Linked DNA regions of Homo sapiens: region 2 is linked to region 1. Evidence: fine-mapped expression QTL. A gene starts in region 1. The other region holds a variant in brackets. All regions are shown on one strand. Distances are between the middles of the regions.

The links. PIP is the estimated chance that this variant, and not a neighbour inherited with it, causes the effect.
Region 2: its variant is the best candidate, but not a certain one, in a credible set for the expression of LINC00622 in whole blood (TOPMed, PIP 0.61).

What each region holds. Positions count from the first base shown.
Region 1 is chr1:119,596,016-119,601,394 of GRCh38, reverse strand. It overlaps LINC00622 (long intergenic non-protein coding RNA 622), which reads left to right and starts at 2,104. Exons shown (of 1, transcript NR_036540.1): 1 at 2,104-3,693. It also overlaps the pseudogene GAPDHP33 and the pseudogene HSD3BP5.
Region 2 is chr1:119,574,300-119,579,678 of GRCh38, reverse strand. No RefSeq gene overlaps it. Among named protein-coding and RNA genes, the nearest start is that of LINC00622, 22 kb to the left of the region's middle. The variant G/C (reference allele first, on the strand shown) is at 3,249.

The sequences.
Region 1 (5,379 bases):
TACTCTAACCCAGAAACCCTCCTGCTCCTGTCACAAGGCAGCTCCAGCCTGTCATGGCCAATCCAAAGTAGCAGACAACACACTCCAGGAAACAGAAGATGCTGGGGAGCAGATCTGATTCTAGGGTGACCCTGGAGAGGGCTAAAAAAAGAGATCAAATGGTTATATACTCACACAGATGTCTTATTTTCCTCTACCCCATTTTTTTTGCAAAAATTCCATGTCTCCACCATTGCCAGGAGTAGCTGAAAGAAAATGAAGAAGCTCTTACTGTTAGATTGTTAAAGCTGGACAAAAGAGTCAGGGTGCTTGTCACTTCATCCCCTAAGGGAGCCCTGGGCCTTTATGCTCCGTGGCTTCTGACTTGCCCCTTATCCCCTTGAACTCCTGCCACATACTCATTTCTCCTGCCTCCTCCAGCATCCCTTTTCTCAGAAGAATAGTGACCTTTAGTCTATATCTCTAATTCTTCCCAGGAACAGGAAGAGAAGTCCAATTCTAAGGCAGCAATGCAGTAAAGAGTCTTAGGTTTAGCCTTAACAGGACACTGGTCAGTTGATACCAGATATCGGGGATCCGCAATCTGTGATCTTAAACTAGGCTGAGAGAAATCTCCAAGTGTAATGTGAACTTTGCTTTTGTGCAGTAAATATGTTTGGAAGGAAATCCACATTAGCTCGTTATCTCCTCTCTCTGAGTGTCATTTGAAATGTTGCTGCTGTCTTGCAAAGTTTAGAAATTTGCAATGGTGACAGCTCCAATCACTAAGTTTTACGGAGGTGACTTACTTACCTATTCAATATATCCAAAACCTCAATTGCAATTTTCCCCCAGAGAGCTCTGGGTTCCTAGATGAAGAACACCATTGAAGGAAAGCTATCTAGTGTTAACCATTTAATGATATGGCCTGTACCACAGGAGTGGGGATTTGTGGTTGTATGCTCCAATGACTCTTATCATAGATGTTTGAACTTTTCCCATATTTTTGGGTACAAAACCATTCTCAGCAAATTTCTGAAGATGCTGTGAATGCTCCTTGAGCGTATACCTGAGAACTGCCCAAATTTCACCACCATAAGCTCTCCAAGATACTTTCCTCTACTTAAAAAAATCGAGGCCAGGCGCAGTGGCTCATGCCTGTAATCCCAGCACTTTGGGAGGCCGAGGCAGGCAGATCATGAATTCAGGAGATCAACACCACCCTGGCTAACACGGTGAAACCCCATCTCTACTAAAAATACAAAAACTTAGCTGGGCCTGGTGGTGGGCGCCTGTAGTCCCAGCTACTCAGGAGGCTGAGGCAGGAGAATGGCGTGAACCCTGGAGGCGGAGCTTGCAGTGAGCTGAGATTGCGCCACTGCACTCCAGCCTGGGCGACACAGTGAGACTCCGTCTCAAAAAAGAAAAAAAAAAAAAATCCAGGTGTAATCAGGTGTAATTTATATTCACTAAAATGCCCAGAGCTCGTGTTTAGTTTGATGAACCTTGACAGTTATGTATGCCCATGTAAGTAGCACCCAAAAAATGTATTGGTCATTTCCTTCACTGCAGAAAGTTCTTTTCTGCCTGTTCTTAGTTAATTCCCTCCCCTGCCCCCAATTTACCCTGGTAGGCAGCTACTTTCTGATTTTTATTCCCACAGAATTTTCATTTTATTCCTATATTTTCTTAATTTATTCTTCTAAGATCTCTGTGGTTCTGGATATATATTTAAATATAAAATCATTCTGAACTGAAGTTTTGTTCATGGAGTACAGAAGGATTGACCATTGATTGTCTCTATTGTTTGTTCATTTTTCTATTTCATGATTTTCTTTGTTTTTATTATCAGCTTATGTTTATTAACTTGGGGGTTGTTTTACTCCTTTTTTTCAGGGTTCTTATTATAAAAGCATATATAATTGACTTTAGTCCTTTGCTCATTTCCACTACAGGCATTTAAAGTTGTAAGTTTCTCTCTAAGCACTGTGTCAGCTGCAGCCAACATTTTGATGCATCGGGTTATCATCACTCAGTTAATGATGTTTTGAATTTTTTCTTGTGAGTTCGTCTTTGACCCAAGTGACCGATACCAACAGAGTATGTAGCTTGTTTTCTGAAATTGGGAATCTTCTAGATATCTTATTGTTTTGAATTTCTAATTAAATACTACTGTGGCCATAGCATATACTCTGTATGATTTTGATCCTTGTGTATATATTGAGACTTGTTTTATGGTGCAGCAAAAGGTCTGTGTTGGTGAACATCCCATAAACACTTGAAACGAATGCTTTCTGCAGTTGTTGGAAGTAATATTCTACAAATGATTTGCTTTGAAACCCCACTCTAGGTCTTGCCCTCCTCCCATGTTGAAAACATTCAACTGCTACTTGGGACCTGACTACCAATGCTTCAAACCCACTTGCCTAGAAAAGGTTGGCCCTGTGCTGCAAGATGTAGCAGCTTGTTCTCCGATAGCTACAGGCCCTGGGTCTTGCTGAGACATGTGGAGCACTATCTGAACCACCCAGGTGCATCACACACCTTTGCCTGCTATAGCACATGCTAGAGTGCACCTTACAGATCCCATCACCTTTCGGATGGGGCCAGACATTCCCTATGCTGTTGAGAGTTCTGGAGGCTGATAGATTTCAGCCAGTGTCTCTTGGAGTCTCTGAGTGGAACCGATAAATAAAAGCCCTAAAGAAAGTGAGAAATTAAACAAAGGGCAAGACTGATGGGGGCCACACTACTAAATTTCTTTTGTTTTTAAACAGCTTTACTGAGGTATAATTGACATAACATTCGCTTGTTTTAAGTGTGCAGTTAAATTATTTTCAGTAAAATTTTAGACTTGTGTGACCATCACCATGATCCTGTTTTGCAACATTTCTATCATTCCTAAGAAATCCCCTATGTTCATCAGTCACCACCACTTTTTCCCAGTCCCCAGCTCCAGGCAACCTCTAATTGACTTTCTGACTCTACAGATTTGCCTTTTCTGGAGACCATATAAATGAAATCATGCAATATGTGGTCTTTTGTATCTGTCTTCTTTCATTTACTTTAATATACTTTTATGGTTCATGTATGTGGCAGCACATATCAATATTTTAATCCTGTTAGGGGACAAATCCTATTAAATTGTATGGATAGCTCCCATTAGTTTATTCATTTATCAGTTGATACATATTTGAGTGTTTCTACTTTATGGACAATTATGGATAAAGTTGCTATGAATATTCACATTCATGTGTTGTGTGGACATAGGTTTTTTTCTTCTGGGTAGATAGCTAGAAGTGATAGTGCTAGGTCATATGGTAAATATATCTTCAACATTTTAAGATACTGCCAAACTGGTTTCCAACGTGACTGCATGTCCCATCAACAATGCGTGAGTGTTTTAGTTTTTCCACGTCATTATTTCACTTCCCCCAGGTGTTACTGTCCTTTTTTATTATAGCATTCTAGTGGGTAAGAAGTGGTGTCTCACTGTAGTTTTGATTTGCATGTCCCTGCTGACTGATGATGCTGACCATCTTTTCATGTATTTTATTGTCTATTCCTACACCTTTTTGATGAAATGGTTATTCAAATATTTTGCCTATTTTAAAATTGGGTTATTTATCTTTTTGTTGCGTAGTTGTAAGTGTATTTCATATTCTGGATATGAGTCCTGTATTAAATATATGATTTGAATTTTTTTTCTCAGTCTCTGGTTTATCTCTTCATTTTCTTATTGGTGGCTTTTAAATGCCAACATTTTTAGTTTTGATCCTGTTTCATTTTTCAACTATTTTTTAACCAGGAAAAGTTGGGTTTTTGCCTAATTCAAGATCATGAATATAATAATCTATGTTTTCTTCTAAGAGGTGTATAGTTTAGCCCTTAAATTTAGGCCTTTATTTTATTTTGAGGGAAGTTTTGCCTATGTGTGGGTTAATGGCCTAAATTCATATGGCCAATTGATTTTGACAATAGCAAATTCAATAGGGAAAAAGATTGTCTTTTAAACAAGTGACACTGAGACAACTGAATTGTCCACATGCTCAGGGAATGTCAGCCTGCTATGTCAAGTGGTGCCCACCCGAGTCACCACCTATTGACATCAGAGTGTGTGAAGAATTTCTCAATATGATAACTATGGGTTAAATAATATGCTGTAGCTTTCTGCTCCTCCCATTCGACAGATAGCCGCATCTTCTTGTGCAGCGCCAGCCGCATCCCTGAGACACCATGGTAAGGGTGAAGGCCAGAGTCAATGGATTTGGCCCCATTGGTTGCCTGGTTACCAAGGCTACTTATAACTGGTAAAGTGGATATTGTCACCATCAATGACCCCTTCATAGTCTACAAATTCCATACTACATGGTCTATGTATTCCAGTATGATTCCACCCGTGGTGAATTCCATGGCACCGTAAAGGCTGAGAACAGGAAGCTTGTCATCAATGGAAATCCCACCACGATCTTCCAAAAGCTAAATCCCACCAAAATCAAATAGGACAATGCTGGCACCAAGTACATCATAGACTCCAGTGTCGTCTTCACTACCATGGAGAAGTGTGTGGCTCATTTGTAGGGGCCAGTTAAATGGATCATCATCTCTAACCCCTCTGCTGACAGCCCCATGTTTGTGATGGGTATGAACCATGAGAAATATAACAACAGCCTCAAGATCATCAACAGTGTTTCTTGTACCACCAACTGCTTAGCATCTCTGGCCAAGATCATCCATGACAACTCCGATTTAGTGGAAGGACTCATGACCACAGTAAATGCTATGATTGCCACCCAGAAGACTGTGGACGGCCCCTCTGTGAAACTGTGGCATGACAGCTGCAGGGCTCAAAGGAACATCATCCTTGCATCTACTGGCACTCTCAAGGCTGTGGGCAAGTATATCAATGAGCTGCATGGGAAGATCACTAGCATGGCATTCCAGGTCCCCACCACGAACATGTTGGTCATGAACCTGACCTGCCCTCAGGAAAAGCATGCCAAATATGATAACATCAAGCAGGTGGTGAAGCAGCATCAGAAGGCCCCCATAAGGGCATCCTGTGCAACACTGAGAACCAGGTTGCCTCCTCCAGCTTAACCATTGACACCCACTCTTCCACCTTCAATCCTGGGACTGGCATTGCCCTCAGTGACCACTTTGTTAAGCTCATTTTCTCATATGATAATGAATTTGGGTACAGCAACAGGATGGTGAACCTCATGGCTCACATAGCCTCCAAGGAGTAAGACCTCTGGGCCACCAGCCCCGCGAGAGCATGAGAGGAAAAGAGAGGCCCTCAGCTGCTGGGGAGTCCCTGCCACACTCAGTCCCCCACCACACTGAGATTCTCCCCTCCATGCAGTTTCCATGCAGACCCCCTGAAGAGGGAGGGGCCTA
Region 2 (5,379 bases), 22 kb after region 1:
TTTTAATGATTGCCATTCTAACTGGCATGAGTGGTATCTCATTGTGGTTTGGATTTGCATTTCTCTGATGACCAGTGATGATGAGCATTTTTTCATATGTCTGTTGGCTGCATAAATGTCTTCTTTTGAGATGTATCTGTTCATATCCTTTGTCTACTTTTACATGAGGTGATTTGTTGTTTTCTTGTAAATTTGTTTAAGTTCTTTGTCGACTCTGGATATTAGTCCTTTGTCAGATGGGTAGATTGCAAAGATTTTCTCCCATTCTGTAGTTTGCCTGTTCACTCTGATGATAGTTTCTTTTGCTGTGCAGAAGCTCTTTAGTTTAATTAGATCTCATTTGTCAATTTTGGCTTTTGCTGCATTGCTTTTAGTGTTTTAGTCATGAAGTCTTTGCCCATGCCTATGTCCTGAATGGTATTGCCTAGGTTTTCTTCTAGGGTTTTTATGGTGTTAGGTCTTACATTTAAGTATTTAATCCATCTTCAGTTATTTTTCGTACATGGTGTAAGGAAAGGATCCAGTTTCAGCTTTCTACATATGGCTAGCCAGTTTTCCCAGCACCATTTGTTAAATAGGGAATCCTTTCCCCATTGCTTGTTTTTGTCCGGTTTGTCAAAGATCAGATGGTTGTAGATGTGTGGTGTTATTTCTGAGGTCTCTGTTCTGTTCCATTGGTCTGCATGTCTGTTTTGGTACAAGTACCATGCTGTTTTGGTTACTGTAGCCTTATAGTATAGTTTGAAGTCAGATAGCGTGATGCCTCCAGCTTTGTTCTTTTTGCTTAGGATTGTCTTGGCTATGTGGGCTCTTTTTTGGTTCCATATGAAATTTAAAGTATTTTTTTCCCAATTCTTTGAAGAAAGTCAGTGGTAGTTTGATGGGGATAGTATTGAATCTATAAATTACCTTGGGCAGTATAGCCATTTTCATGATATTGATTTTTCCTATCCATGAGCATGGAACATTCTTCCATTTGTTTGTGCCCTCTTTTATTTTGTTGAGCAGTGGTTTGTAGTTTTCCTTGAAGAGGCCCTTCACATCCCTTGTAAGTTGAATTCCTAGGTATTTTATTCTCTTTGAAGCAATTGTGAATGGGAGTTCACTCATGATTTGGCTCTCTGTTTGTCTGTTATTGATGTATAGGAATGCTTGTGATTTTTGCACATTGATTTTGTATCCTGAGACTTTGCTGAAGTTGCTTATCAGCTTAAGGAGATTTTGGGCTGAGAGGATGGGGTTTTCTAAATATACAATTACATTGTCTGCAAACAGAAACAATTTGAGTTCCTCTTTTCTTAATTGAATACCCTTTATTTCTTTCTCTTGCCTGATTGCCCTAGCCAGAACTTCCAAAACTGTGTTGAATAGGAGTGGTGAGGGAGGGCATCTTTGTCTTGTGCCAGTTTTCAAAGGGAATGCTTCCAGTTTTGGCCCATTCAGTACGATATTGGCTGCAGGTTTGTCAGAAATAGCTCTTATTATTTTGAGATATGTTCCATCAATACCTAGTTTATTGAGAGTTTTTAGCATGAAGGGCTGTTGAATTTTGTCACAGGCCTTTTCTGCATCTATTGAGATAATCATGTGGTTTTTGTTGTTGGTTCTGTTTATGTGATGGATTACGAATATTGATTTGTGTATGTTGAACCAGCCTTGCATCCCAGGGATGAAGCCTACTTGATCATGGTGGGTAAGCTTTTTAATGTGCTGCTGCATTCGGTTTGCCAGTATTTTACTGAGGATTTTCACATTGATGTTCATCAGGGATATTGGCCTAAAATTCTATTTTTTTGTTGTGTCTCTACCAGGCTTTGGTATCAGGATGATGCTAGCCTCATAAAATGAGTTAGGGAGGGTTCCCTCTTTTTCTTTTGATTGAAATAGTTTCAGAAGGAATGGTACCAGCTCCTCTGTACCTCTAGTAGAATTCGGCTGTGAATCCATCTGGTCCTGGACTTTTTTTGGTTGCTAGCCTATTAATTATTGCCTCAATTTCAGAACCTGTTATTGGTCTATTCAGAGATTCAACTTCTTCCTGGTTTAGTCTTGGGAAGATGTATGTGTCTAGGAATTTATCCATTTCTTCTAGATTTTCTAGTTTATTTGCATAGAAGTGTTTATAATATTCTCTGATGGTAGTTTGTATTTCTGTGGGATCGGTGGTGATATCCCCTTTATCATTTTTTATTGCATCTATTTGATTCTTCTCTCTTTTCTTTTTTATTAGTTTTCCTAGTAGTCTATCTTTTTTGTTGATCTTTTCAAAAAAACAGCTCTTGGATTCATTGATTTTTTTTTTTTTTTTTTTTTTTTGAGACGGAGTCTCGCTCTGTCGCCCAGGCTGGAGTGCAGTGGCGGGATCTCGGCTCACTGCAAGCTCCGCCTCCCGGGTTCACGCCATTCTCCTGCCTCAGCCTCCCAAGTAGCTGGGACTACAGGCGCCCGCCACTACGCCCGGCTAATTTTTTGTATTTTTAGTAGAGACGGGGTTTCACCGTTTTAGCCGGGATGGTCTCAATCTCCTGACCTCGTGTTCCGCCTGCCTCGGCCTCCCAAAGTGCTGGGATTACAGGCATGAGCCACCGCGCCCGGCCTTCATTGATTTTTTTGAAAGTTTTTTTGTGTCTCTATCTTCTTCAGTTCTGCTCTGATCTTAGTTATTTCTTGTCTTCTGCTAGCTTTTGAATTTGTTTGCTCTTGCTTCTCTAGTTCTTTTAATTGTGATGTTAGGGTGTCGACTTAAGATATTTCCTGCTTTCTCTTGTGGGCATTTAGTGCTATAAATTTCCCTCTACACACTGTTTTAAATGTGTCCCAGAGATTCTGGTACATTGTGTCTTTGTTTTCATTGGTTTCAAAGAAGATTTTTATTTCTGCCTTCATTTCGTTATTTACCCAGTAGTCATTCAGGAGCAGGTTGTTCAGTTTCCATGTAGTTGTGCAGTTTTGAGTGAGTTTCTTAATCCTGAGTTCTAATTTGTTTGCACTGTGGTCTGAGAGACAGTTTGTTGTGATTTCTGTTCTTTTACATTTGCTGAGGAGTGTTTTACTTCCAATTATGTGGTCAATTTTAGAATAAGTGTGATGTGGTGCTGAGAAGAATGTATATTCTGCTGATTTGGAGTGTAGAGTTCTGTAGATGTCTATTAGGTCTGCTTGGTGCAGAGCTGAGTTCAAGTCCTGGATATCCTTGTTAATCTTCTGTCTCACTGATCTGTCTAATATTGACAGTGGGGTATTAAAAT[G/C]TCCCATTATTATTGTGTGGGAATCTAAGTCTGTTTTGTAGGTCTCTAAGGACTTGCTTTATGAATCTGGGTGCTCCTGTATTAGGTGCATATTTATTTAAGATAGTTAGCTCTTCTTGGCGAACTGATCCCTTACCATTATGTAGTGGCCTTCTTTGTCTTTTTTGATTTTTGTTGGTTTAAAGTCTGTTTTATCAGAGACTAGGAGATTGCATTCCCTGCTTTTTTTTTGCTTACTATTTGCTTGGTAGATCTTCCTCCATCCCTTTATTTTGAGCCTGTGTGTGTCTTTGCACGTGAGATGGGTATCCTGAATACAGCACACTGATGGGTCTTGATTCTTTATCCAATTTGCCAGTCTGTGTCTTTTAATTGGGGCATTTAGGCCATTTACATTTAAGGTTATTATTATGTTTGAATTTGATCCTGTCATTATGATGTTAGCTGATTATTTTGCCCATTAATTGATGCAGTTTCTTCATAGCGTCGATGGTCTTTACCATTTGGCATGTTTTTGCCGTGGCTGGTTTTGCAGTGGTTGTTCCTTTCCATGTTTAGTGCTTCCTTCAGGAGCCTTGTAAGGCAGGCCTGGTGGTGACAAAATCTCTCAGCATTTGTTTGTCTCTAAAGGATTTTATTTCTCCTTCACTTATGAAGCTTAGTTTGGCTGAATATGAGTTTCTGGGTTGAAAATTCTTTTCTTTAAGAATGTCGAATATTGGCCCCCACTCTCTTCTGGCCTGCAGGTTTTCTGCCGAGAGATCCGCTGTTAGTCTGATGGTCTTCCCTTTGTGGGTAACTGAACCTTTCTCTCTGGCTGCCCTTAACATTTTTTCCTTCATTTCAACCTTGGTGAATCTGGCAATTATGTGTCTTGGGGTTGCCCTTCTCGAGGAGTATCTTTGTGGTGTTCTCTGTATTTCCTGAATTTGAATGTTTTCCCGCCTTGCTAGGTTGGGGAAGTTCTCCTGAATAATATCCTCAAGAGTGTTTTCTAACTTGGTTCCATTCTCCCTGTCACTTTCAGGTGCACCAAACAAATGTAGATTTGGTCTTTGCATATAGTGCCATATTTCTTGGAGGCTTCGTTCATTTCTTTTCACTCTTTTTTCTCTAATCTTGTCTTCTCACTTTATTTCATTAGTTTGATCTTCAATCACTGATACCCTTTCTTCCACTTGATTGAATCAGCTGTTGAATCTTATGCATGTGTCACAAAGTTCTCGTGCTGTGGTTTTGAGCTCCATCAGGTCATTTAATGTCTTCTCTACACTGTTTATTCTAGTTAGCAATTCGTCTAACCTTTTTTCAAGGCTTTTAGCTTCCTTGCAATGGGTTAGAACATGCTCCTTTAGCGCGGAGAAGTTTGTTATTACCGAAGGTCTGACGCCTGCTTCTGTCAACTCCTCAAAGTCATTCTCCGTCCAGTTTTGTTCCCTTGCTGGTGAGGAGCTGCGATCCTTTGGAGGAGAAGAGGCACTCTTTTTTGGAATTTTCAGCTTTTCTGCTCTGGTTTCTCCCCATCTTTGTGATTTTATCTACCTTTGGTCTTTGATGTTGATGACTGTGACCTATGGATGGGGTTTTGGTGTGGACGTCCTTTTTTTTGATGTTGATGCTCTTCCTTTCTGTTTGTTAGTTTTCCTTCTAACAGTCAGACCCCTCAGCTGCAGGTCTGTTGGAGTTTGCTGGATATCCACTCCAGACCCTGTTTGGCTGGGTATCAATAGTGGAGGCTGCAGAGCAGCAAGTATTGCCACCTGATCCTTCTTCTGGAAGCTTTGTCCCAGAGGGGCACCCACCTGTTTAAGGTGTCTGTCAGCCCCTACTGGGAGGTGTTTTCCAGTCAGGCTACATGGGGGTCATGGACCTGCTAGAAGAGGCAGTCTGTCTGTTCTCGGATCTGGAATGCCGTGCTGAGAGAACCACTGCTCTCTTCAGAGCTGTCAGACAGGGACATTTAAGTCTGCAGAAGCTGTCTGCTGCCTTTTGTTCTACTGTGTCCTTCCCTCAGAGGTGGAAGCTATAGAGGCAGTAGGCCTTGCTAAGCTGCAGTGGGTTCCACCTAGTTCATGCTTCCCAGCCTCTTTCTTTACACTGTGAGCTACTCAAGCCTCAGCAATGGCAGACG